7 linked regions of the Homo sapiens genome follow. The protein of the gene in region 7 purifies or fractionates together with the protein of the main gene of each other region. This does not show direct contact. Each region holds a gene or a part of one and is shown on either strand. Other genes may lie near its edges.

Evidence for each region.
Region 1: the proteins of ZDHHC6 (region 7) and SDR9C7 purify together in Homo sapiens (affinity purification with mass spectrometry; one large-scale study listed by BioGRID and IntAct). This does not show direct contact.
Region 2: the proteins of ZDHHC6 (region 7) and TAF7L purify together in Homo sapiens (co-immunoprecipitation; one large-scale study listed by IntAct). This does not show direct contact.
Region 3: the proteins of ZDHHC6 (region 7) and SH3GLB2 purify together in Homo sapiens (affinity purification with mass spectrometry; one large-scale study listed by BioGRID and IntAct). This does not show direct contact.
Region 4: the proteins of ZDHHC6 (region 7) and A2ML1 purify together in Homo sapiens (affinity purification with mass spectrometry; one large-scale study listed by BioGRID and IntAct). This does not show direct contact.
Region 5: the proteins of ZDHHC6 (region 7) and IMPA2 purify together in Homo sapiens (affinity purification with mass spectrometry; one large-scale study listed by BioGRID and IntAct). This does not show direct contact.
Region 6: the proteins of ZDHHC6 (region 7) and TMEM169 purify together in Homo sapiens (co-immunoprecipitation; one large-scale study listed by IntAct). This does not show direct contact.

Annotation. Positions count from the first base shown.
Region 1 is NC_000012.12:56,924,409-56,927,908, forward strand, and holds part of SDR9C7 (short-chain dehydrogenase/reductase family 9C member 7), read right to left. Parts: intron 1-3,500. UniProt on the Homo sapiens protein: Plays a crucial role in the formation of the epidermal permeability barrier.
Region 2 is NC_000023.11:101,277,835-101,281,334, forward strand, and holds part of TAF7L (transcription initiation factor TFIID subunit 7-like), read right to left. Parts: intron 1,202-3,500; coding exon 1,160-1,201; intron 288-1,159; coding exon 215-287; intron 1-214. UniProt on the Homo sapiens protein: Probably functions as a spermatogenesis-specific component of the DNA-binding general transcription factor complex TFIID, a multimeric protein complex that plays a central role in mediating promoter responses to various activators and repressors.
Region 3 is NC_000009.12:129,018,332-129,021,831, forward strand, and holds part of SH3GLB2 (endophilin-B2), read right to left. Parts: intron 2,889-3,500; coding exon 2,760-2,888; intron 1-2,759.
Region 4 is NC_000012.12:8,850,121-8,853,620, reverse strand, and holds part of A2ML1 (alpha-2-macroglobulin-like protein 1 isoform 1 precursor), read right to left. Parts: intron 3,462-3,500; coding exon 3,347-3,461; intron 1,838-3,346; coding exon 1,609-1,837; intron 1,412-1,608; coding exon 1,285-1,411; intron 1-1,284. UniProt on the Homo sapiens protein: Is able to inhibit all four classes of proteinases by a unique 'trapping' mechanism. This protein has a peptide stretch, called the 'bait region' which contains specific cleavage sites for different proteinases.
Region 5 is NC_000018.10:12,005,507-12,009,006, reverse strand, and holds part of IMPA2 (inositol monophosphatase 2), read right to left. Parts: intron 670-3,500; exon of another isoform or gene 598-669; coding exon of another isoform or gene 416-597; intron 1-415. UniProt on the Homo sapiens protein: Phosphatase that can use myo-inositol monophosphates, myo-inositol 1,4-diphosphate, scyllo-inositol-1,4-diphosphate, glucose-1-phosphate, beta-glycerophosphate and 2'-AMP as substrates in vitro.
Region 6 is NC_000002.12:216,095,419-216,098,918, reverse strand, and holds part of TMEM169 (transmembrane protein 169), read right to left. Parts: intron 3,082-3,500; 5' UTR 2,956-3,081; coding exon 2,685-2,955; intron 1-2,684.
Region 7 is NC_000010.11:112,429,915-112,433,414, forward strand, and holds the end of ZDHHC6 (palmitoyltransferase ZDHHC6), read right to left. Parts: intron 3,368-3,500; coding exon 3,326-3,367; intron 2,608-3,325; coding exon 2,462-2,607; intron 2,373-2,461; coding exon 2,326-2,372; intron 994-2,325; coding exon 890-993; 3' UTR 386-889; downstream 1-385. UniProt on the Homo sapiens protein: Endoplasmic reticulum palmitoyl acyltransferase that mediates palmitoylation of proteins such as AMFR, CALX, ITPR1 and TFRC.

The sequences.
Region 1 (3,500 bases), on a different chromosome or scaffold from region 7:
ACAGAATGACACGCTGTCTCAAAATAAATAAATAAATAAATAAATAAACAAATAGTCTTATTTATCTTTCTGAATTCAACAATTGTGCATTGAAGTCCTACTATTGCATTAGACTGGTGATGAGAAGAACTGTGCACATTCTCCTTATAACTGTGCCGCTTATTAGTTATATGACTTTGAGCTTAAACTTTTATTGTCTATAAAATGGAGATAATACTATCTTTCCTAAAGTTTGGGCATAGTGGCTCAGGCCTGTAATCCCAGTACTTTGGGATGCCAAGCCAGGCCAATCACCTGAGGTCAGGAGTTTGAGACCAGCCTGGCCAACATGGTGACACCTTGTCTCTACTAAAAATACAAAAATTAGGTGAGCGTGGTGGCGCGTGCCTATAATCGCAGCTACTCAGGAGGCTGAGGCATGACAATCACTTGAACTCAGGAGTGGGAGGTTGCAGTGACCCAAGATCGCGCCACTGCATTCCAGCCTGGGCAACAGAGTGAGACTCCATCTCAAAAAATATCTGTCCTGGAGAATAACAAAGATGATTAACAGCAGGGTAGACACTGGGGGAGTACAGAAGAGCAAACATGATGGGAAAACAGCCCTTTTTTTTTTCTTCTATGTACTTCCTAGAGTTCCCACATTTAAACAAAAACATGCAGGAGAAAATATTATTTAAAAATAGTAATACTGCCCCTACCTCAGTCATAAGGCCACTGTCACTCAAATAATCTAAGGCATAGACAAGCACCTCGTGGGGCCCTCACAAATGTGAGGAGTTGTTCTGTTTGCATTGACCCACAGGGGTGGAGATGGGGACAGAGCACCCAAATAGTACAAGTCTGCCAAAGTTCATGACATAAATGGGAGAAGGGCCACACCACACACCCACCAGGCCCTCATCTGCATCCTCACCCCAGGACAGGGGGATTCATGCTTCATTGAGAGCCCTGAGGACTCCAGGGAAAATGATGCTTCAAAGTCAGACTGCCCTGATAAGGTATGAAAACTTGAAAATGGAGAGGAAGCCAAAGCTGCCCTGACTTTGAGAATGGTCCAGGCAGGCAAGGAATTCACCCGCTTGGGGCCAGGACCCTTGTGGGTGGTTGGTGAGAATGGGGCAGCATCACTTCAGTCCCCTTCACCCCAGACTCCGAGAAACTCCATTTTCTGTTTCCTGGAAAGAAAACTGATGCAGGGGAAAAGCCAAACTATATTTTGGGATCTCAACAAGAGCCACACTAACTCAAAGCCAGACTGTCCATAAAGCAGTAATGTCTTAGGAAGCCACACCCTGACCTCTGACCGTAGAGCTGGCACAGAGGCCACCAGCAGCAGGGCTGAGGGTCGAAGGAATCGTTCAGGATGCCCAGGAGGCTCTCTCTGCCCCCTCGGCGCCAGGGAAAGCTTTGTGGGCTGAGGATGTGGAGCAAGCTGACATGGTGAGATGGGCTGGGGACTGGGTTCTGAGAGGTGGGGAGGGCTTGCACAGGCAGTGGGGTGGGAGAAGTTACCCCAGACATGGGGAATGGTATGAGGCACTTGCTTTCATTGTTTTCTCAAATAGATATTAGCTGCCATTCAGTGCTGGGCACCCTGCTAGGCATGGAGTAGGATGGGAGACGGAAGGACCCATCCAGCTTTGTCACTCTCCTTCACAGTGAGGAAGGACATAGGCTTTGGAGCTGGGCACCTGGGAAAATGTTTTTGTTATTGGGAGAATTAAGCAGGACAAAATCTATAAAGTATCAGGCCTGGTCCTAGGGGTTACAAGCCAGGGGCCTGTTTGGTCAGTCACAGCAACTGGCTGAGTTTGTACCCAGCGATGCTCTAGGACTACTCCTAAATATCTCTTCTGTCTGTCACATAGCCACCCCCCACCACCAGAACCATCAGGACTTACAACTTCATGTCTTTATCGTTCCTTCACTGGGTTTCTGCAGTAGTCCCCCAGGTGGACTTTTTATCCTTCCCACGGTGACACAAATCTGATCCTTCATTTCAGAGCCATTTACAAGGCTCTCTAATGCCTTTAGGATAAGAGCCATGCTCCCTACTATAGCAATCAAAGCATTTCATGATCTGACTCCTAATCTCTCCCCTCCTCAATCATCACCCACAGCACTCCTGCCAGACTATAATGGCAATGGCAAAGGTTTGTTCAGCTCTTACTGTAGCAGAGCTGAGTACTTTGCATTTCTGTTTAATTCTCCTAACAATCCATGAGAGAGGAATTGTACTTTATAAATGGATAAACAAGTTTGGAGAGCTATACAACATGATTAGAGGGACTGCTGGAATACAAGCCTGAATCTGCACTGCCTCCAAAAGCATACAATGCTATGTCAGGTCACTAAAACGTTGCTCACACCCTTCCTCTTGTGTGAAACATCCGCCATCTCTTTCCCTTTTGGTGTACTCCTATTCATCCTTCAAAACTCACTAAGGCATTAACTGTCACCTCTGTAAGGCTTCTGTGACAGCAGAATGAAGTCTGCATTGCTGCTTTGTTTTGTATGCATGTCCATTATAGCAAGATTCTTCATGTGGTGGTGTATTTGCTTTCACATCTTCCCTGCTAGTTTCCTGGAGAGTGTCTCATCTCTGAATCCCAATAAACACTGGGCAACTGAAGCAAAAATTCTAGTATAACCACTTGGGAAAACGTTTATCTAAATGTAGTTGACCACTGCCTGAAAATTTTCCTCTGAAATTATGGTGTGGACTACAGGTGAATTGGCCTAAGATATTTTATAAACCCAATCCTTACTATTCTTTAGTACAATACTAGCTTTTGGACAAGGTTTTCGGAGGAGTTTGCCTTTATACATATTCTTTCATGGACCACACTAAAGATGCTACAAGCTCTCTTCACCCTGAGTGCTTACTTAGAAAATGACTTTGTGAGGTTTCCAGACACTGGCTGAACCCATTTCACCCCAGCCTCCAAGCAGCTCCACAAATAATTTGAACTACTCTTTGCTAAGAATGATCACACAGAGGATAAATATTCTTCCCCACACATGCTAACATCTTCTCTCCTTGTTCCCAACAGCTGCAGATTTCCCTCTGGGGACCTATGCCTCCCCCACACTGTGTCCATTGGTCTGGGCAGAGCACACAGCCCAGCCTGAGCCAATCACACCTTCACATTCCCCTGGGCGCAGTGATTGGTTTAGGGTTGGGTGCATCTTGTGGTCCCCCATGACGCGGTCACCATAAGGTCCTCCAAGTCGGAGTGTACATTAGGACTTTTGGGAGAGGTACTGGAAATAACTCTCCTATTTTCCCAGCAGACCTCACCCTAGGTGGAGGTGAAGAGAGGCTGCAGCAATGTGGCTCCCACAGGGGAGAGAGCTTAGAGACTGGAGTCAGTGCAAAAGAAGCAGAGCCAAGAAATGGGTGGAACCAGGTCCTAGCAACATCATTTGCAGTCTGGGTCAGGTTGTACCTGAAGCTTATCTTGCTCAACTTTTTAGTCAGGTGAGGCAAGAAATTC
Region 2 (3,500 bases), on a different chromosome or scaffold from region 7:
GTATTGGAATTCCTAGTTTGGAGAAGTGCCTCATATTGAATTACACAATAAATAATTTTCTATTACATGAATTTACTGTTCCTAGCTAGAACATTTCAAAGAATCTTAAGTTCCACACATCAAGACTGGCACACAAACACCAGAGGTGAGGCTTCGTCAGCATGTACAAATGGGGCAGAACAGACTATGCAGAAAATATTTGTATAAAGGATACGGGTACTTACGGCTTCAGCATCCGAACGCAGCAGTCTCTTTACTTCATTTTCCACGTCTGGAGATTCAATGTACTGAAGCAAAGTTGGGGATTAGAGGGGGATACCAATACTGTCATTTAACACCCTGTGTGTTGCAGGAGTGCCCTCCTACGTACCAACGAATTCAAATGTTAGGCCTCTTTAAATTCTGATCCAACCAAATTTCTACTTTAAGTAGTGCTATTTATAAAGGAATCTTTAGCCAGGGTCTAGAATTTTGTACAGTAAACTTACTTTTTTCCTAATTAAACAAATTACTTGAGACATTTAATCTTTTCAATCTGCAGCTCTATGGTAAAGCCCTCTCTCAGAGGTGCAACCCTTAGGTCTCAGTTATAAATTATTTCTCCTGATTTATATTGGCAAAGAACTATAATTCCTTATTAGTTATTTAGAAATAATTTGGTTTAAAGATCCAAATTCCCAGATTTCACTTCCCCACATCTTTATTATTAGAGACGTTCCTATAAAAACTGGATCTTAGCTGCATGTTCTCCCTTGAATCCAGTTTTACATAATTATCTCCACAGCAACCAATTTGTTGTGCCACAAATAGAAATTAGGATTTTGATGGGGAATAAGCAATTGCAAACAACTGCTGTTAAAAGTGAGCTCTGGCTCCCAAGGAATGGCTTTTGAAATAAATATCAGAATAAAAAGAGCAGATTAGAATACACGGGGTCACTGGCCAAATTGTATCTTTTCCTCTAGCAGTTATCAAACATCAAACAATGAATTCATTTTTTAGTGAATCAAACCCAGTGTATGTGTTTAGGATGAGGGTTAGAGGTGAGAAGGAAGGCTCAAAAGTAGCTTCTGTGGTTTATTTGATTCATTTGAAACTAATGAGCTATTAAATAAAACACATTAAGGGTAAAAATGAAGTTATATTATGATTGCTCTACCTCAGTAAAGCTGCTTTTTTCCATTTCTTTGACATCAGGGACCTATGAAATAAAACACAATAAACAAGTTATATTATGATACCTATATTTCAGTAAAGCTTAAAGAGCTCTACAACTATCCTTAACTTAGTTTTACATTTAGTAGGCACTCAATAAATGTTGATTTACAGAGTATAAAAGCCAAGGCAACTGTGTTCATGGATTGGAAGACTCAATATAGTAAAAATGTCAGTTCTCCCCAAATTGATCTACAAGTTTAATGTAATTCCTGCCAAAATTCTAGCAAGGTTTTCTATAGCTATAGACAAGCTTATTCTAAAATTTATATTAAAAGATACAGGCTTTTGGCCAGGCGTGGTGGCTCATGCCTGTAATCTCAGCACTTTGGGAGGCCAAGGCGGGCGGATCACGTGAGGTCAGGAGTTCGAGACCAGCCTGGCCAACATGGTGAAACCCGTCTCTACTAAAAATACAAAAATTAGCCGGGCATGGTGGCCCATGCCTGTAATCCTGGCTACTTGGGAGGCTGAGGCATGAGAGTCGCTTGAACCCGGGAGGCAGAGACTGCAGTGAGCAGAGATCGTGCCATTGCACTCCAGCCTGGGCAACAGAGCGAGACTCCATCTCAAAAAATAAATAAATAAATAAATAAATAAAGATATGGACTCTAGAATGGCTAAACAATATTGACAAAGAAAAGTAAAGTCAGAGCAATCAGCCTTCTAATTTCAGGACCAATTATATAGCGACACTGTGATATTGGTGGAGGGATTGACAGATGGATCAGTGGAGGAGAATGGAGAACCCAGAAACAGACCCATAAAACCAAGCCCAACTGATATTTCACAAAGGTGCAAAAGCAATACAACAGAGGAAGAATAGCCTTTTCAACAAATAGTGCGAGAGCAATTAGACATCCTTTGGCAAGAAAAGCAAAAACAAACAAACAAACAAAAACAAAACAACAACAACAACAAAAAAAAAACCTTGAACTAAACCTCATAGCTTTTACAAAAATTAAGTCGAAAATGGGCATCAGGCTTAAAAAGATGTAAAAAAAAAAAAAAAGCAGGAGAAAATCTTCAGGATCTGGGCTAGGCAAAGAGTTCTTAGATTTACTATAAAAAGCAAGATCGTTTTCAAAAAAATCAATATATTGTACTTCATCAAAACTAAAAACTTTTGCTCTCTGAAAGACCCTACGAAGAGGATGGAAAGACAAGCTACAGACTGGGAGAATATATTTGCAAACTACATATCTGATAAAACACTGGTAGTATTTAAAATATAAAAAGAACTCTCAAAATTCAATAATAAAAAATCAATTTAGAAAATAGGCAAAAGGCATGAGCAGACATTTCGCTGAAGTGGAATAGATGGCACATGAGATGCTCAACCCCGTTAACCATCAGGGAAATGTAAATTAATACTACAATGGGATCACTATGCACCTATCAGAATGGCTAAAATGAAAAATAGTGACAACACCTAATGCTGGTGAGGAGGTGGAGAAACTGGATCATTCATACATTATTGGCAGGAATATAAAATGGTACAGTCACTCTGGAAAACAGGTCATTTCTTACAAAACTAAACATGTGACTACCATATGACCCAGCAATTATACTCCTGGACATTTATTCCAAAGAAATGAATACTTATATTCACACAAAAACCTGTTCACAGCTTTATTTATAATAGTCAAAACCTGTAAACAACCCAGATGTCCTTCAAAGGGAGAACAGTTATGTAATGTGGTACATTCATACCATGGAATACTACTCAGCAATAAAAAATAAACTATTGATGCTACAAAAACTTATATGGATCTTAAGTGAATTATGCTGAATGAAAAAATAAGCTAGTCTCTGATGTTATATACTATATAATTCCATTAATATTAAATTTTTGAAATGACAAAATTACAGAGATAGAGATCAGATTAGTGATTACCAAGTGTCAGAGACTGGGGTGTGAGGTGGAAGGGAAGTGGGCATGGTTATATAAAAGCAAAATGAGGGATCCTTGTGATGAAACTGTTTTGTATTTTGACTGTGTAGACAGATACATGAACTTACACATGGGATAAAACTGCATAGAACTAAACACATGCACAAAAATACACGAGTACAAGTAAAACTGGAGAAATTGGAATAAGATTGCAGAATTCTAATCATGTCAATTACCTGTTTGTGGTATTGTACTATAGTTTTGCAAAATGGGGAAAATGGCGAAAGGGTACACGATATCTCTCTTTTATTTCTTACAACTGTATATGAATTTACAATTATTTCAAAATAACATGTTTAATTTTAAACAAAAGAAGAAGCCAAGCCACAAT
Region 3 (3,500 bases), on a different chromosome or scaffold from region 7:
CTTTGGGAGGCCAAGGCGGGCGGATCACAAGGTCAGGAGTTCAAGACCAGCCTGGCCAACATGGTGAGACCCCGTCTCTACTAAAAACACAAAAAATTAGCTGGGCATGGTGGCGGGTGCCTGTAATCCCAGCGACTTGGAAGGCTGAGGCAAGAGAATTGCTTGAACCCAGGAGGCGGAGGTTGCAGTGAGCCAAGATTGCGCCACTGCACTCCAGCCTAGGTGACAGAGAGAGACTCCGTCTCAAAAAAAAAAAAAAGAGTTAAGTTAAATTTACCTGAGGCCAGGCACAGTGGCTATGCCTGTAATCCCAGCACTTTGGGAGGCCGAGGCGGGTGGATCACGAGGTCAGGAGTTCAAGACCAGCCTGGCCAAGATGGTGAAACCTCATCTCTACTAAAAATACAAAAAATTAGCCGAGCGTGGTGGCAGGCGCCTGTAGTCCAGCTACTCGGGAGGCTGAGGCAGGAGAATGGCATGAACCCGGGAGGAGGAGCTTGCAGTGAGTCGAGATTGTGCCACTGCACTCCAGCCTGGGTGACAGAGTGAGACTCCATCTCAAAAAAAAAAAAAAAATTATGTTAGGTAAAAGCAGCTAAATGCAAGAAACAACATGTCATATGATTCCATTTATATAAAATGTTCAGAAAAAATGAACTTATAGGGACCGAAAACACGTTAGTGGTTGGCTGGCTGGAGGTGAAAATGGGGCTTGACAATAGACATGAAGGACTTTTGGGGTGTGATGGAAATGTTCTTTAAATTAGACTGTGGGCCGGGCACGGTGGCACACTCCTGTAATCCCAGCACTTTGGGAGGCCAAGGTGGGAGGTCACTTCAGCTTAGGAGTTTGAGATCAGCCTGGGCAACATAGCGAGATCCCCATCTCTACAGAAAAATATAAAAATTAGAAGGGCATGGTGGTGGACACCTGTAATCCCAGCTAATCAGGAGGCTGAGGTGGAAGGATGCCTTCAGCCCAAAAGGCAGAGGTTGCAGTGAGCTGAGATTGCACCACTGCAATCCAGCCTGGGGGACAGAGCCAGACCCTGTCTCAAAAAAGGTAACAGAAAATAAAAAATAAATAAGTTTGGCTGGGCGCAGTTGCTCACGCCTGTTATCCCAGCACTTTGGGAGGCTGAGGCGGGTGGATCACCGGAGGTCAGGAGATCGAGACCTGCCTGGATAACATGGTGAAACCCGGTCTCTGCTAAAAATACAAAAATTAGCTGGGAGTGGTGGTGGGCGTGTGCAATCCTAGCTCCTTGGGTAGCTGAGGGAGGACCCGGGATGCTTGAACCCAGGAGGCAGAGGTTGCAGTGAGCTGAGATTGCGCCACCGCACTCCAGCCTGGGTGACAGAGTGAGACTCTGCCTCAAAAAAAAAAAAAAAAAAAAAGTTAGATTGTGGAGATGTTTGTACAACTCTGTAAATTTACTAAAAATCATTGAATTATACACTTAAACACATAATATATAGCTTATACTTGGATAAAATTTTAAAATGAAAAAAAAAAGATGGATATGGTTCTATAAATGCTTCAGTGAAAAGATACCTGTAATATGATGTCAAGTTAAAAAGTCAGGTTCCAGCCGGGTGCGGTGGCTCATGCCCGTAATCCCAGCACTTTGGGAGGCCATGGCGGGCAGATCACTTGAGGTCAGGAGTTGGAAACCAGCCTGGCCAACATGGTAAAACACCGTCTCTACTAAAAATACAAAAAAGTTAGCCAGGTGTGCTGGTGGGCACATGGAATCCCAGCTACTTGGGAGGCTGAGGCAGGAGAATTGCTTGAACCCAGGAGGCGGAGGTTGCAGTGAGCTGAGATTGCGCCACTGCACTCCAGCCCGGACAACAGAGCAAAACTCCATCTCCAAAAAAAAAAAAAAAAAAAAAAAAAAGTCAGGTTCCCAGATAGCACACAATATGATTCCATTAAAAAATACACACAAATAGGCCAGGTGCGGTGGCTCACACCTGTAATCCCAGCACTTTGGGAGGCTGAGGCAGGCGGATCACTTGAGGTCAGGAGTTTGAGAACAGCCTGGTCAACATGGTGAAACCCTGCCTCTACTAAAAACACAAAAATTAGCTGGGTGTGGTGGCGGGCTCCTGTAGTCCCAGCTACTCGGGAGGCTGAGGCAGGAGAATCACTTGAACCTGGGAGGCAGGGGCGTTGCAGTGAGCTGAGATCGCACCACCGCACTCCAGCCTGGGTGATGGAGTGAAACTGTGTCTCAAAAAAAAAAAAATAGGCCGGGCGCGGTGGCTCACGCCTGTAATCCCAGCAGTTTTCGAGGCATAGGCGGGCAGATCACGAGGTCAGGAGATCGAGACCATCCTGGCTAACATGGTGAAACCTCGTCTCTACTAAAAAATACAAAAAAAATTAGCCAGGCGTGGTCACGGGCGCCTGTAGTCCCAGCTACTTGGGAGGCTGAGGCAGGAGAACGGCGGGAACCCAGGAGGTGGAGCTTGCAGTGAGCCGAGATCACGCCACTGCACTCTAGCCTGGGCGACAGAGCGAGACTCCATCTCAAAAAAAAACAAAAACAAAACACACACACACACACAAACCAAAACTGGTTAAGAGAAGATTCCATTTTTTACTCTTTTTTTCTGCGTAGAGTTTTTACATTTAGAATGAATTCAGGTATTATTTGTATAATTATTTTTTTAAGTAAAAAAAAGGAAGGGAGGGAGGGAGAATCAGAGCTAAAGACCATGACCCCTAGTCCCTGGCTGTGAGGCCTGCTCACCATAGGGGGTGGTCGGCCCCAGCTCACTGGCCGCGTCTGCCATGTACTGAGCCAGCAGCTCCCCGTTGGTGACCCTTGAGGGGACCTTCCTGTCCAGCTTCTCATACAGGAACTCCTCCACTCGGGCACCTGTGGGGAGACAGCAGCCAAAGCCACAGGGCTCCTTAGTTCAAGCCCAAAAATGAAACAGAAACAGACCCAGACCCGGCCCTGCCCACAGGTGCACCTGGCCTGCTGACTTCCAGAATACGCTCTTGCTCATGCCCAACCCTGAGACTGTTGTGATTGACCCAGCACTATACAGAGGAGGAAGCCAGGGCCCGTCCACTTCTCCCTTATTAATATGATTACAGACCATAATACATGCTTGCACAATTCTCTGCTCCTGGCACCCAAAAGTTATCTGGCCCCTCAATGAGCCACAGAGCAGATTTACAGGCAGACACACAGCACGACCCGGAGCCACCCTCCTTTCCCCGGAAGTCCTGCAGGTCGCTTCTGCTTGACCTTGGGGGCCTGCCTGGGTGTGCTCCGGGCAGTCCCTTCATCTCTGGGCCTTGCTGACCTCTTGAAAGTGACCAGGTTGGGACGGACACGGTGGCTCCTGCCTATAATCCCAGCACTTTGGGAGGCCAAGGCGGGTGGATCATTTGAGGTCAGGAGTTCAAGACCAGCCTGGCCAACATGGTGAAACCCCTTCTCTACTAAAAATACAAAAATTAGCTGGGCGTGGTGGCATGT
Region 4 (3,500 bases), on a different chromosome or scaffold from region 7:
AGCCTGTAAGGATCAGAGACTTTGGGATGAGCTTGAAAAATCAATCCTCTCCTAGTCGAGTCTTCAGATGAAACCAGAGTCCTGACTGACAGCTTGATTGCAACCTCATGAGATACCTTGAGCCAGAGGTACCCAGCTAAGCTGCACCCAGATTAATGACCCATAGAATCTGTTTGATAATGTTTGTCCTTTTATGACACTTAAGTTTTACAATAATTTGTCAAGCAACATGAGATAACTCATACATATGAAAATCAAACTTTGAGTTGCAAGGATTTAATCTATGAGTGACTGACATCCCATAGGGTTGGGGGTGAGGATTAAACAAGTTAAAGGTGCAGTGACTCATTCTTGTAATCCCAGTACTTTGGAAGGGTGAGGCGGGAGAATCACTTGAACCCAGGAGTTTGAGAACAGCCTGGGCAACAGAGCAAGACCGCTTCTCTGCCAACTGAATTAGCCAGGCATGGTGGTGGCATGAGCCTATAGTCCCAGCTACTCCGGAGGCCTAGGTGAGAGGATCGCTTGAGCCTGGGAGGTTGAGGCTGCAGTGAGCAATGACCACACCACTGTACTCCAGCTTAGGTGACAGAGTAAGATCTTGTCTCTCTAAAAAAAAATAAAAGGCCAGGCGCAGCGGCTCACGCCTGTAATCCCAGCACTTTGGGAGGCCGAGGCAGGCAGGTCACCTGAGGTCAGGAGTTTGAGACCAGCCTGGCCAACATGGCAAAACCCCACCTCTACTAAAAGTACAAAAATTAGCCGGGTAGGGTGGCACGCGACTGTAATCCTAGCTACTTGGGAGGCTTGGCAGGAGAATCACTTGAACCCAGGAGGTGGAGGTTGCAGTAAGCACAGATTGCACCACTGCACTCCAGCCTGCGCAACAGAGCGAGACTTCCTCTCAAAAATAAATAAATAAAATAAAAATTAATTAGTCAATCAATTTAATGAGTTAATATATGTAAAGCAGTTAGAATAGTGCCTGGCCCAGGGACTCTTATAGTAAGTCCTTGATTAGTTACATGACCATGTATTCCTTGTCCAGCTATAAATATTAAAAGCTCTCCCTTTCACACTCAAAATATTCCGGTTTGAACAAATTTGTTTGGTCACCTATCAAAGAGTGTTTGTGTATTGACTTATAACAGCCTTAGGAGGGAGAAAAATAGTGGAAAATGGAGGAGGAAGCAAAGCAGATGTGGCAGAGGAAAAGACTGAGTGCTCAGTCACTGGTCTTCTGCTGCTGGCTTTCCTCGCCCGTCTACCACTTCCCTCTCTTACCCAATTTGACAGCTGTGATGTTCCAGTGGTGGGTTTTTGCGTCATCAGCACAGAGACAACTGGAGGTCTGAGAATCTGCCCATGATTCTAGCTGGTACTCATGCGATTTAGCCAGGTCAGTCTGAACCTACGGAGGATGTTTAAGAGACAAAGGGTACAAACAAAGGAGGTAGTGCATAGAGGCCTGGGGAAACCTGGGGGCTGAGACGCCGACATCTCCTCTCTTTCCCAGGGAAAATTGGGATGCTTCCAATTTAGAGACAAACTTATGGGGGAGGTGTGATTCCAGGGCTGACACCTGATTCCTGTATCCCCAGCTCTCACCCTGATGCAATCCTTTAGGTAATTGAAGATGGTGGCAGTAAGACGAAAGGATTCCCCACGGACTACTGAGTAAGGGAGAGTCAGGTCAACAAAGAACGGCTTGAAAGCAGTTAGTCCAACAGTGGGTGAAAGCCCGAAGCCTCTTGACTGGGAAGTGCAGAAACTCATCGCCTTCCACTCGGTGATGGCGTCAGGAACTGTGACGTGGACCGCCTCCTTCCCCGAGTTACTGTGAAAACACAAGGACCAACATGAGGCAGAGGTAGCGTGGGGCAAGGAGAACATTTGTGAATTAAGCCACAAATTCGGTGGGGTGTGCTGGCTTACACTTGTAATCCCAGCTCTTTGAGAGGCTGAGGTGAGCAGATAGCTTCAGCCCAGCAGTTTGAGGCCAGCCTGGGAAACATAGCAAGACCCTATTTCTACCAAAAATTTAAAAATTAGCCAGGTGTGGTGGTGCATGCCTATAGTCCCAGCTACTTAGGAGGCTGAGGCAGGAGGATTGCTTGAGCCCAGGAGTTTGAGGCTGCAGTGAGCTATGATTGCACCACTGCACTCCAGCCTGGGTGACAGGGCAAGACCCTGTCCAAAAAAAAAAAGCTACAAATTCATCTGCAGAAGTAAAATTGTTATTGTTATTGTATGGGGAGAAGTAAAGAGGCAACTGAACAGGTGAGTCTCAGTGTGAGTGAGGCTGCACTCATACGGAGGAGGGGGACTATGGTGGGGAGTCGGGGTGGGCATCTCTGTGCAAGCACATCTGACAGAGAGGCTGGTGCCCTCTGAGTCTGAGGATGTGTGGTCTCAGGGCTTGTCAAAATGGATATGCAAGCAGTGAGCAAAAATTGATGTCAATATATACCTTTAAATGTGTGTGGTTCTGTAGTGAGAACACAGGGCCTGCAATGTGTGAGTGTGGAATTGTGTGGATTTGTTTTGAGTGGTTGTATATGAATGCATGAAGAATTCAGGTAGGCCGGGCGCAGTGGCTCACACCTGTAATCCCAACACTTTGGGAGGCCAAGGCGGGTGGATCACTTGAGGCCAGGAGTTCAAGACTAGCCTGGCCAACATAGCAAAACCCTGCCTCTACTAAAAATACAAAACTTAGCCAGGTGTGGTGGCATGTGCCTATAGTCCCAGCTACTTGGGAGGCTGAGGCACAAGAATTGCTTGAACCTAGGAGGTTGAGGCCTACAGTGAGCCAAAATCATGCCACTGCACTCCAGCCTGGGTGACAGAGCAAGACTCTGTCTTAAAAATAAAAAGAAAAAAAGAATTCCGGAAAATAAATAAATTCCCACACCCCATCAAGCTTTCTTTGCTTAAGATTTAGATCCATTAGGAATGCGTCTGATTCTGAGTTTTCTACAGGCTCTACATTGCAGAATCTTACTGTTTTTTTTCTGGGTTTGTTGTTGTCGTTGTCGTTGTTGATTTTGAGAAGGGTTTTGCTCTGTCACCCAAGCAGGAGTGAAGCAATGTGATCTTGCTTCACTGCAGCCTCCACCTCCCAGACTCAAGTGATCCTTCCACCTCAGCCTTCCAAGTAGGACACAACTACCATCTGGCTATTTTTTTAATTTCTTTTGTAGAGACAGAAGCTCATTATGTTGCCCAGGCTGGTCTTGAACTCCTGGTCTCAAGTGATCCTCCCTCCTAAGCCTCCCAAAGTGTTGGGATTACAGGCGTGAGCCATGCACCTGGCCCTTTACTGTACTTTTGAGTCATCACTTACCCAATAGGAAACAGATCCCAGAGCCAGGTCTCTGGGAAGTACTGGCGGACCTGAGAATCCTCTGCTTGATGTAAAGGAGTTGATGACTCAAAAGCCTCTGGATGACCACCGCCTGCTGATGAAATTGAGAATACGAAAACTTTAGGAAACAGGA
Region 5 (3,500 bases), on a different chromosome or scaffold from region 7:
ATGTGCCCTGTGCAGGCTCCACTCCTCCATGTGGCCTGCTTGACACATTCCTGCTAGAGGGACATGGGCGGCCTGCTCCTGCACTCTGCAGCAGGCCCTGGGCTGGCCCCTCCTTTGTAATGAGTCCCTCTGCAAACAAGGCCCCCTACAATCCTCACTTGAGTGTGCGTCTGTCCTGCTAGGAACCTGACCGAGACAATGTTCTCTCAAGATTCACCTGCACAGAAGGGAACTCCTGGTTTTCTCTACTTGCCTCTACCTCCACGAATGGCAACTCCCAGCACCCCCTGCTCAGGCCAAAAACAAGGGAAAGCACTCTCGCCCCATGCACTGTCACCCTTCCTCCTGCACCCCACCCACACGCAGGCCCACACACACAGGGAAGATGCTGTGGTCAGGTGTATTCGCAGCCCACCTTCTGCAGGCTGGTCCCTGTGGAGCTGGCCGCTGTTTACACCTTCCAAAGGCATTCTCAGGATCAAAGAAAAGACTAGATCTAAAGCATTCAGGGCAGTGCTTTTGACACTCTTGGACTGTCCCAAGTTCACTAAGGGTGAGGCCTTGGGCAGGCGCTAAGCAAACATCTGTTCTGTGCATGACTATGTGGCCTTGCCGAGAGGTTTTCTATCCAGTTCCTGTGCCGGGTTCACATGTGTACTAGAGAAAAAGGAGACCTGCAGAGAGTAAGAAAAAGAAAATAAGTGAAAAACAAGCAAGGCGCGGTGGCTCACGCCTGTAATCCCAGCACTGTGGGAGGCCAAGGCGGGCAGATCACCTGAGGTCAGGAGTTCGAGATCAGCCTGGCCAGCATGGTGAAACCCTGTCTCTACTAAAAATACAAAAATTAGCTGGGCGTGGTGGTGGGCGCCTGTACTCCCAGCTACTTGAGAGACTGAGAGAGGAGAATTGCTTGAACCCAGGAGGTGGAGGTTGCAGTGAGCCGGAGGTTGCAGTGATCCTAACGTTGCAGTGAGCTGAGATCACACCGCTGCACTCCAGCCTGGGAGAGTGAGACTCCATCTCAAAAAGAAAAAAAAAGAAAAAGAAATAAAAATACAAAAATTAGCTGGGGGTGGTGGCGCACGCCTATAATCCCAGCTGCTTGGGAGTCTGAGGCAGGAGAATCGCTTGAACCCAGGACGGGAGGGATGCAGTGAGCCGAGATCATGCCATTGCACTCCAGCCGGGGTGACAAGAGTGAGATTCCATCTCAAAAAAAAGAAAAGAAAGAAAAGAAAAAGAAAAGAAAGAAGGAAGGGAAGGAAGGAAGGAGAGAGAGAGAAATAAAGAAGGGAAGGAGGGAAGAAAGGAAAGAAAGGAAAGAAAGGAAAGAAAGAAAGAAAGAAAGAAAGAAAGAAAGAAAGAAAGAAAGAAAGAAGAAAGAAAAAGAAAGAAAGAAAGAGAAAGAAAGAAAGAAAAGAAAAGAAAGAAAAGAAGGAAAGAAAGAAAGAAGCGTCCCATGTTCTGGTGTTTGGTGTATTATCCACTGTGGTCATCAGCCTCCTGGAAGCCACTTTCCCCGCACGAACCATGTGGTCTAAGATTTGGCATCAATGAACTTTTGGATAAGGCTGGAGACTTGAGTGTGAATGGAAAGACTGAAATGAAAACCTCTGTGACCGCTCAGCGCCTTACAGTAGCCAGTCACCGCATATGGCTGCTTACATTTGAATTAAATAAAGACTTCAGTTCTTCAGTCTCATGAGCCACCTTTCAAGTGCTTGGCAGTCACGTGGGTGAGCGGCTACCACTGTGGACACAGCAGATGTGGGCCACCCCTGCAGCAACAGACAGAGCCGCTGGCAGTGCTGTCCTCCCACCGAGATGCTGAGAGGCAACAGCAGGCATCTCATGGTATTCGATGTCACTTTTTTTTGGAGACAGAGTCTCGCCCTGTCGCCCAGGCTGGAGTGCAATGGCGCGATCTCAGCTCACTGCAACCTCTGCCTCCCGGGTTCAAGCAATTCTCCTGCCTCAGCCTCATGAGTAGCTGGGATTACAGGCGTGCGCCACACGCCTGGCTAATTTTTTTTATCTTTAGTAGAGATGGGGTTTCACCATGCTGGCCGGGCTGGTCTTGAACTCCTGATCTCGTGATACGCCCACCTCAGGCTCCCAAAGTGCTGGGATTGCAGGCGTGAGCCACCACGCCTGGCCCGATGTCACTTTTCTATGCACGGGAGCTGCCATACACACTGTAACCACCCTGGTCCCCATCCACTCTGGGACCATCCTTCCACTGCTGGGTTATGAAGTTCATGCCTGGGATGCAGAGTCATCCAGCCCCTCCATTTTGCTGATAAATTATCTAGAAATACAACCCTGGGATACGACAAGTGCACGCATACATCATCTCAGGCTGTGCGACCTCCTCCCCGGCCCCCTGGAGAAACCCACGAATAAGCAGGGGCTTCTGAGCCAAGAAGACCAGGTCAAGTCAAGCCAGGAGCACTAAGCAAGACACCCAAGGAATCATCAGCTGTTCCTGGAGAGCCTGGGCAGGCTCAGTCTGCCCCTGGAGCTTTCAGCCTAGCCAGGCAAGGCAGATGAGATGCAGTGAACCCAGGCTTCTGGTTCTTCATCTACACTGCACGCCTTGCTCCTTGCAGGAACTGCCTCTCCACTCTCAGTTGTCCACATGCTTCTAGGTCAGGTGATGCACAGGCCCACCAGCCAGAGCCCCTGCTCAGGAACTGGTGCTCCCCAAACAGATCTAGGAGGAAAAATGGTGGGTAGAAGCCACAATGGCAGCCGGGGCAGGGGGTGGAGAGGCTGCCTCCTGACAACAGCAGCCTGCAGGAGACACACAGGTGATGATTCCACTTAGGGCGTGATCATAAGTGCTGTCAGCACTGCCAGTTTTCCTAGAAACTTCAGGCACTAAATCTGTTTTTCCATGTCTTCTGTAGCTATGTGACTTTCCTCTTCTGTAATGGCTTGCAATGACGTTTTTAAAGAAAACGCTCCACACCCTGAAAACACACATACAAGGAGCAACTACGAAAGCTTAAACTGGGCACAAGGTTGACAAAGCAGCGAACAGATATGACTCAGGTCCAGAGGGACTAGAAATGACTCAGGCACAAAGGTAAGTTTCTAAGAAACTGAGGAGGAATGTGCAATTCTTCTCCTTTTTAAACCTGACTTCAAGTAGGAAACTGAAGCGGTGGAAAGAAAACTGCCAGTGAGCCCTGAAGGAGGAGGCAGTGTGGGTCTGCAGGCACTGACACTCCACACCCAGGACAACTCACGCTGCAGCACCCAGACCACCCACGCGGCATGCCCACGTGCCTCCCAGGACACTCGGGAGCAGGAGCTCTGTCTGTTCATTCGCCAGATGCGTGGGACACCCTTTAGGGAAGTCACCAAGCAGCTTGTTTTCCCAGCAGCAACTATTAATATAAGTTAATTTGTTAACAAAGCTTCTGCTGTGTGTAACCTTTATTATTTATCTATTTGTTTTTTAGGTTTCATTTAGTGTAACCCAGCAAGTACTTTTA
Region 6 (3,500 bases), on a different chromosome or scaffold from region 7:
ACATACCACACTACACATACCACATACATACCACGCACACATACGTACACCATATACTCCCCCATACCATACCACCCACGCCTATCCACACACACACCACACATTACACACACACACCATACGACACACACAAACAGCGCACACACCCCCACATACACCACACCCACACCGCACACCACACATACACACACACACACACACACAACGCACCCACACAGAACCAAATAGCTATCTGCTGGCCACCCTAGAAGTCTGGGTGGGGATGGGAAAATACAGCCTTTAGGCAGGCATGGACCTTGGGCCCTGTGGACTCCTTGCCCCACAACTGAGAGATAAGATGAAGCCACCTAAAGAGCAGGGCCCTGGATAGTGGCAGGGACTCTGTTTACCCAGAGAAAAGGAATGTGCAGTCTCCCAAGCCCTGTCTTTTCACAGTCTTCATCACAGCAAACACCACCACCATCTATCCTCCCTGTCATTCCAGTCAATCACCCAGGAGTCATTATTGATTCCTCTCTTTCCCTCACTCCCTGCCTCTGATCAATCAGCAAGTTCAGATTGCATCCTGAATCCAGCTTCTCTTCTCCAGCTTTCTCCTGCTATCACCCGAACTTCTCCATTAGTGCTACTGAGGCTGCAGGGACACAATAGTCTCCCATCAGCATCCAGTCTTAACCCTTATAATTCATTCTTTATAGAGAAGCCAGAGTGATCTTTTACAAATATAAACAAGATGATGTCTCTTTGCTTAAAAGTCCTCCATTGACTTCCTCTTGCACTTGAAACAAATATCAAACTCTTTACCGAGACCTGCAAGGGCCACCATGATCCAGCCTCTGCCTACCTTCCTGTCCTCCTCTCACCATCCTCCCTCTTATCTCCTACACTCCCTACACTGAAATAACTCCTTTCCATAAATGGGCCAAAGCTGCTCTCACCTCAGAGGCTTTGCCCTTGCTGTTCCACCTCCTCCAAAAACTCTGCCCTAGAACTTTTCATGGTGGCTCCCTCATGTCATTTGGATCAATTCAAATGTCACCTCCTCAGAGAAGCCTTTCACAACCATGCAGTCTCTCCCCCACCACCTTCCACCCTCCACCAGTACTCATCTTCCCATCAGCATGGTTTTGTCATCTTTAGAACTCATACTACTACCTGAAAGTATCTTTTATTTGTTGACTTGTTCACTATCTGTCTTTCCCTGAAGGTCAACTGCAGGAGAGCAGAGAAATTGCTTATCTTGTTCACTGTGAGCATATGTCTTAGAGATCTATCCATCTACACAAATAGATCTGCCTCATCTCTCTACGGCTGCACAATAATAATAATTATTATTATTTTTTCGAGATGTTGTCTTGCTCTGTCACCCAGGCTGGAGTGCAGTGGCAGGATTTCGACTTGCTGCAACCTCTGCATTCTAGAAACACAGATTCTCCACCTCCCAGGTTAAAGCAATTCTTGTGCCTCGGCCTTTGAAGTAGCTGGGACCTCAGGCATGCCCCAGCACACCCTGCTAATTTTTGTATTTTTAGTAGAGACGGGGTTTCACCATGTTGGCCAGTCTCAAACTCCTGTTGTTGGTCTCAAAGTCCTGACCCCACGTGATCTGCCTGCCTTGGCCTCACAAAGTGCTGGGATTATAGGTGTGAGCCACCGTGCCCAGCCTCCACAATAATTCTTAATACAAACACATCATGGTTGCATTAGCTTCAACAAATGTTCTTATATATGCCTCCTTATACAAGGATAACATGGGCATAAGTTTCATGGAGTAGATATTGAGAATTTCTGGGTCATGAGGTATGCATGTTTTGAACTGTGAATTTTACTAAATATTTAATAAACGTTGACAAGTTTCCTCCACAAAGTGGTTGAAGCGGCTTCCACTTTCACTAAGGTGCATGAAGTATATCCATTTGCTCATATTGATGTAATCACATTTTACCCAATTTTTGGCAAGCCTACATGTGAAGGAATACTATATCTCATTGTTGTCATAATTTGCCATATGATTTTCTTCTGGCAAATTTTCTCATAATTTTCTTTATTCATATGAAAGTCAACAATTATTGTTTATTTTACATACATTAAGTAGTTAGCATAGTCTGCTTGTGTTACCAGTTTTTGCGTATAAATCAGCCTCTTCCATTTCATTAGGAATTCTGAAAGGGTGGAGATTTCTGTATCATCTAGAAAAAAATGTAATAGGTGCTCAGTAAATACTGACCATTTGTTGAATGAAGACTGTAATATTGCACCAGGTCAGTGGCTCATGCCTATAATCCCAGCACTTTGGGAGGCTGAGGCAGGTGGATCACTTGAGGCCAGGAGTTCGAGACCAACCTGGACAACATGGTGAAACCCAGTCTCTACTAAAAATACAAAAACTAGCCCGGCATGGTGGCACATGCCTGTAGTCCCAGCTACTCAGGAGGCTGAGGCAGGAAAGTCACTTGAACCCAGAAGGTGGAAGTTGCAGTGAGGCGACATCATGCCACTGCACTCCAGCCTGGGTGACAGAACAAGACTCTGTCTCAAAATAAATAAATAAAAGGTGGTAATATTGCAAGAAGAAATGTATCACCAAGAAGAAATAGGACAGTGAGCATATGCCTGTCTGTTCTGGAAGATGCCCTTTTGGTTTCCTTCCCATGGCTTTAAACAAGTGGGCTAGAGAGACTTACCATCATCCACAGGATAGTCTAGGAAATCATCTCCCTCCTCCTCTTTAGGCTGATCTCCACCTTCTGATTCTCCGGGCTCCTCATCTGTTTTCTCATTGTCTGAGCGGTAGATGATGATGGATTCTGGGCGTGACTCTTTCCTCTTCTTTTTCCTGTGCCCCATTGTGGATTCCCCATCCAGCGCCAGGGCAGCAGCCACAGCCTTCCTGAGAGAGCCCTGGTGGGGGCTTGGAAGCTGGACCTGGCCTTCTACTGCTGTTGGCTCTTCCATTCCAGACCTGACGTCTACCTATGTCTTATAAAGAGTTGGACTTGTTTGAGTAAACTCACAGTTCACACATCACAGAACTTCTTCCTAGATGGGGCTATGCAAAGATGTCCCAAGGATGCATTCCACCTGAAAGATAGGAAAGCAAAGCCATCAACAGGAAGCAAATGGGGTGAGATGGACAGGAATGTGGGAAACGATCCTCAACTTAGCAGAAGCCTTCCTCTCCCTTTACTTCTTGCAATACTTTATTTTGGGAATGCAATCTAAATCTCTTATAATAGACAGTGAATAAACTTTTGCTACAGTAATATTTTTGTCATTTATACAAACATATAATATTTGGCAAAACCCATGTGAAGGAATACTATATCTCATTGTTGTCATAATTTGCATTTTCCTTATTCATATGAAAGTCAACAATTATTGTTTCTTTATTTTATATACATAAGTAGTTAGCATAGTCTGCTTGTGTTACCGATTTTTGTGTATAAATCAGCCTCTAGTTGGAGCATGCAGAGTATAAGGAAGTTGGGTGAGGAAGCCTT
Region 7 (3,500 bases):
CACCTTTGCTCCAGAGCGAGTGCCAGGAGCAGGAAGAGGCCAAGCAGTTGTTGGGGGGGGGGTGTGGGGGGGGTATTTCCCCTCGGCCCCCTAGAGCACAAGGATGCCCGGGTCCGCAGCCACGGCTGGACAGCTGTAGCTACGCTTGGCTCCTGCCTATCACGGCTCCCCCTCAACACCCCTCAGGCCACCACTGCCATCCGCTGCCATCACTATGACCGCAATATCCCATTAATAGGGTTAATATCTTGAAGCAAGTGTGTCATGTCTTAAGCCACGTTTTAAGATGCCAGTTGTCCACAGGGCAGCAGAGCAGTTTTTCCATAAGGAACTAAGATGAACCTTTTTAGTCAGCAAAAAGAAAAATGCTTTAAGTAAAAACTGATTATACCCAACATCCATTGATCTTTATTTGATTTGACAAAATCTGCATTTTTAAAAGACAGGTAACAAAATCTGAGGTTATACTGAATCTGACAAATTGAGTTCTATAGTATCTAGAATATCATATAAGAAATATCAACTGAGGGAAAAGAGAAGTACCACATGCAGATGCTCCTGGCAAGGGGGGAACTGTATCTGCAGGTGAGGTCCAGAGTGTGCAGTGCATAAGAAAATCCTACAGAAAATGCCGTTAACTTACTTGGATGAAATGTTTTTCCTTTGAGGGGGAGGAAGAGGTGGTAAAGAGGGGCAGGAATTCAAAGGCATATGCAGAATGGCTTCTCCATTTCAAAATGGTAATAAAAATATTTAAATCATGGCACTAGGGCACCTTTGAGGAAAAGAACATCTTAACCAGAGTAGGCTCATTGCATAATTCTTTAGTAATATGTACAATTTTCAAGTAATTAAGCAGACTTAAAGGATAATTTTGTTTTAACAGCAGCTATCTATTTTTCTTCTCCCCCTCTGGGGCTTGATCTGTTTCAGCATCACAGGGACACTTTTCCACACATTTTCTAGGGAACCAACCCCTTATTCTTGAAACACCTGAGGGAGAAAATGAAATTGAGGTGAAATAGTCTGATGGATGACAGTGACATTACTGAAAGCAGTAAGTCCTATTACTTCAAATTAATAAGCTTGTAGTTAGACTTTTATTCCCCACTTTGCTATCTATTATAAGCACAGTTTGAAGGGGAAAAAAATAAGATTTTTAAATGTTCATAACAAGCTAGGAACAGGTATTTCCCAAATTTGATGATCCCGAATAGGGACTAATGTGGTTAAAGACAGCTCCTAACTAGAGTCAGGGGGAACTCGGTATGGGTGTTTACTTATATGTGTATGATCAGGAAAGGTGTTTTTGGCACACCATCACACTGTCTTTTCCAGGGAACTATCTTCTTGTAGTCTTTGTAAATTTCCTTTTTAGACTTTTTCTAACATATATATTTCTTTCTTTTTTTTTTTTGAGATGGAGTCTTGCTCTGTCACCTAGGCTGTAGTGCAGTGGCACGATCTCAGATTACTGCAACCTCTGCCTCCCGGGTTCAAGCAATTCTCCTGCCTCAGCCTCTGGAGCAGCTGGGATTACAGGCACACACCACCATGCCCGGCTAATTTTTGTATTTTTAGTAGAGATAGGGTTTCACCATGTTGGCCAGGCTGATCTTGAACTCCTGACCTCAGGTGATCCATCTGCCTTGGTCTCCCAAAGTCCTGGGATTACAGGCATGAGTCACCACACCTGGCCTAACATATACATTTCTATATCACGGCCGTCATAAGAGGTTAATTTATGATTAACCCCAACTATTTTTTAAAGAACATCCCGAGCTAATCTTTACTTTAAAAAGAAACAATTATAAAACTTAAGAAAAAAAAAAACACAAAGTTTCAATCTACTGGTTTTTATAACAACTTAAGAGAAATGCTCAAAGTGGGGGCAGCAAATAGTACAGGGGTTTGGTGCATAGAATCTGGAGTCAGACTGCTTGGGGTTAAGCCCTAGCTCCATCTGTTTTCAGTGCATAGCTATGGGCAAGTTGCCTCTCTGTGCTTCAGTTCCCTCAATCAAATATAAATAATAGTGCCTACCTCCGAAGTATTTTGGGGACTTCTACACCTTAAGGGTAGCACTTATACAAGTACTTTTCGCATAGTTATGAGCTCAAATGTTAGCTATCATTAAAAAGACCTGAAAAATACAAGAGCTATAGAGAAATATATAAGGAAGTTCCTTTTGTTGCTTAGTGATATACCCTTCTATGCAGTTCCCCTAATGCATTAGGCATGATTGGTTTATAAAAGTTATTCTTGTAAAATTTGGAATTATTGCTAATAGTCTTGTCCTTTAAACATGCCCTTCCATTTCCATACCTTCTATAAAGGAATCATCAAGAATTTTGTCTCCATATAACCAGTATCTGAAATATTTAAAAGATGAAAATTAATTTTTTAGGCTAGATATTAATTTTGTCCTTGAAGAAGAAATGCAGTACTTCCTATTACTTACCGTAAACCTCTTGTGGCTAAAATGAATTCCCCTTTTTGCAGCTGTATTCGAGGCTCTTCGGTGCAGGGACTTGTGAAGAAGGTTTTGATTCCTTTATTCAGAGGGCAGCAGGCACCACTATAATCTTCTATTACTTTATAGCGAACCTGTCGTCAGTGATCAGAAGAAACCTTTAAATATTCACCCATGATATCTGAGTTTTAAGTCTGAATTTCAAATTTTAAAGCAAGATCCAAAATATCCAGTGACAAGCCTTCTAGTTCCCCTTCTAGGGGAACCTCCCAGTTCCCCATCCACCTAGTTCCCTGGGAGGCAACTAATGTTTCTAGTTCTCAAGGCTTTTCTTACTCCTCTTTTCAAGCCCATAGCTAAGAATTAGAGTTAGAGCAGGGCTAAGAACATTCTGCCATGATGGAAATGTTCTGTATGTGTAGTATCCAATGCAGCAGCACTTGACACATGTAGCTACTGAGTGAGCACTTACAATGTAGTGAATGCAAACAAGAAACTGAATTTTTAAATTGATTTAATTTTAACAAATTTAAATAAAACAGCCACATGTGGCTGGTGGCCATCATATCCAACAACATAGTTGTAAGGATAGGTTTCACATTAAGGAGCTGTATTGAGGATAATTATTTTCCTATGTTGGCAATATAAATGGACTAAATTCCTCCCAACCTCTAGTCCCAATTATTTAAATAAAAACAAAAGTTAACTGCATCAAATTTCAACAAATGTATTAAGGAATACTATTTAATAAAGGCCAACAATTGGTTTCTAGTCAGTCAATTAAAAAAACTGTATGGAAGTACAGAGCCTAACAAAAGAAAAAAAAATTACCACTGCAAAAGAAGTACTTACACTTCTGACTCTCTTATCTGCTTTTTGTTTCAACTGTTCTATCTGTTTGGAAGAAATAAAAAGAAAAAAATGAAGTCTCTTGTCTCAATGTTGAAAAATCGCCTTTCCTCATCAACTGTCAGAGTGATATGGCAAAACCCCAATTTTCCAGCATTTCAAGTTGCTGATAATTTAA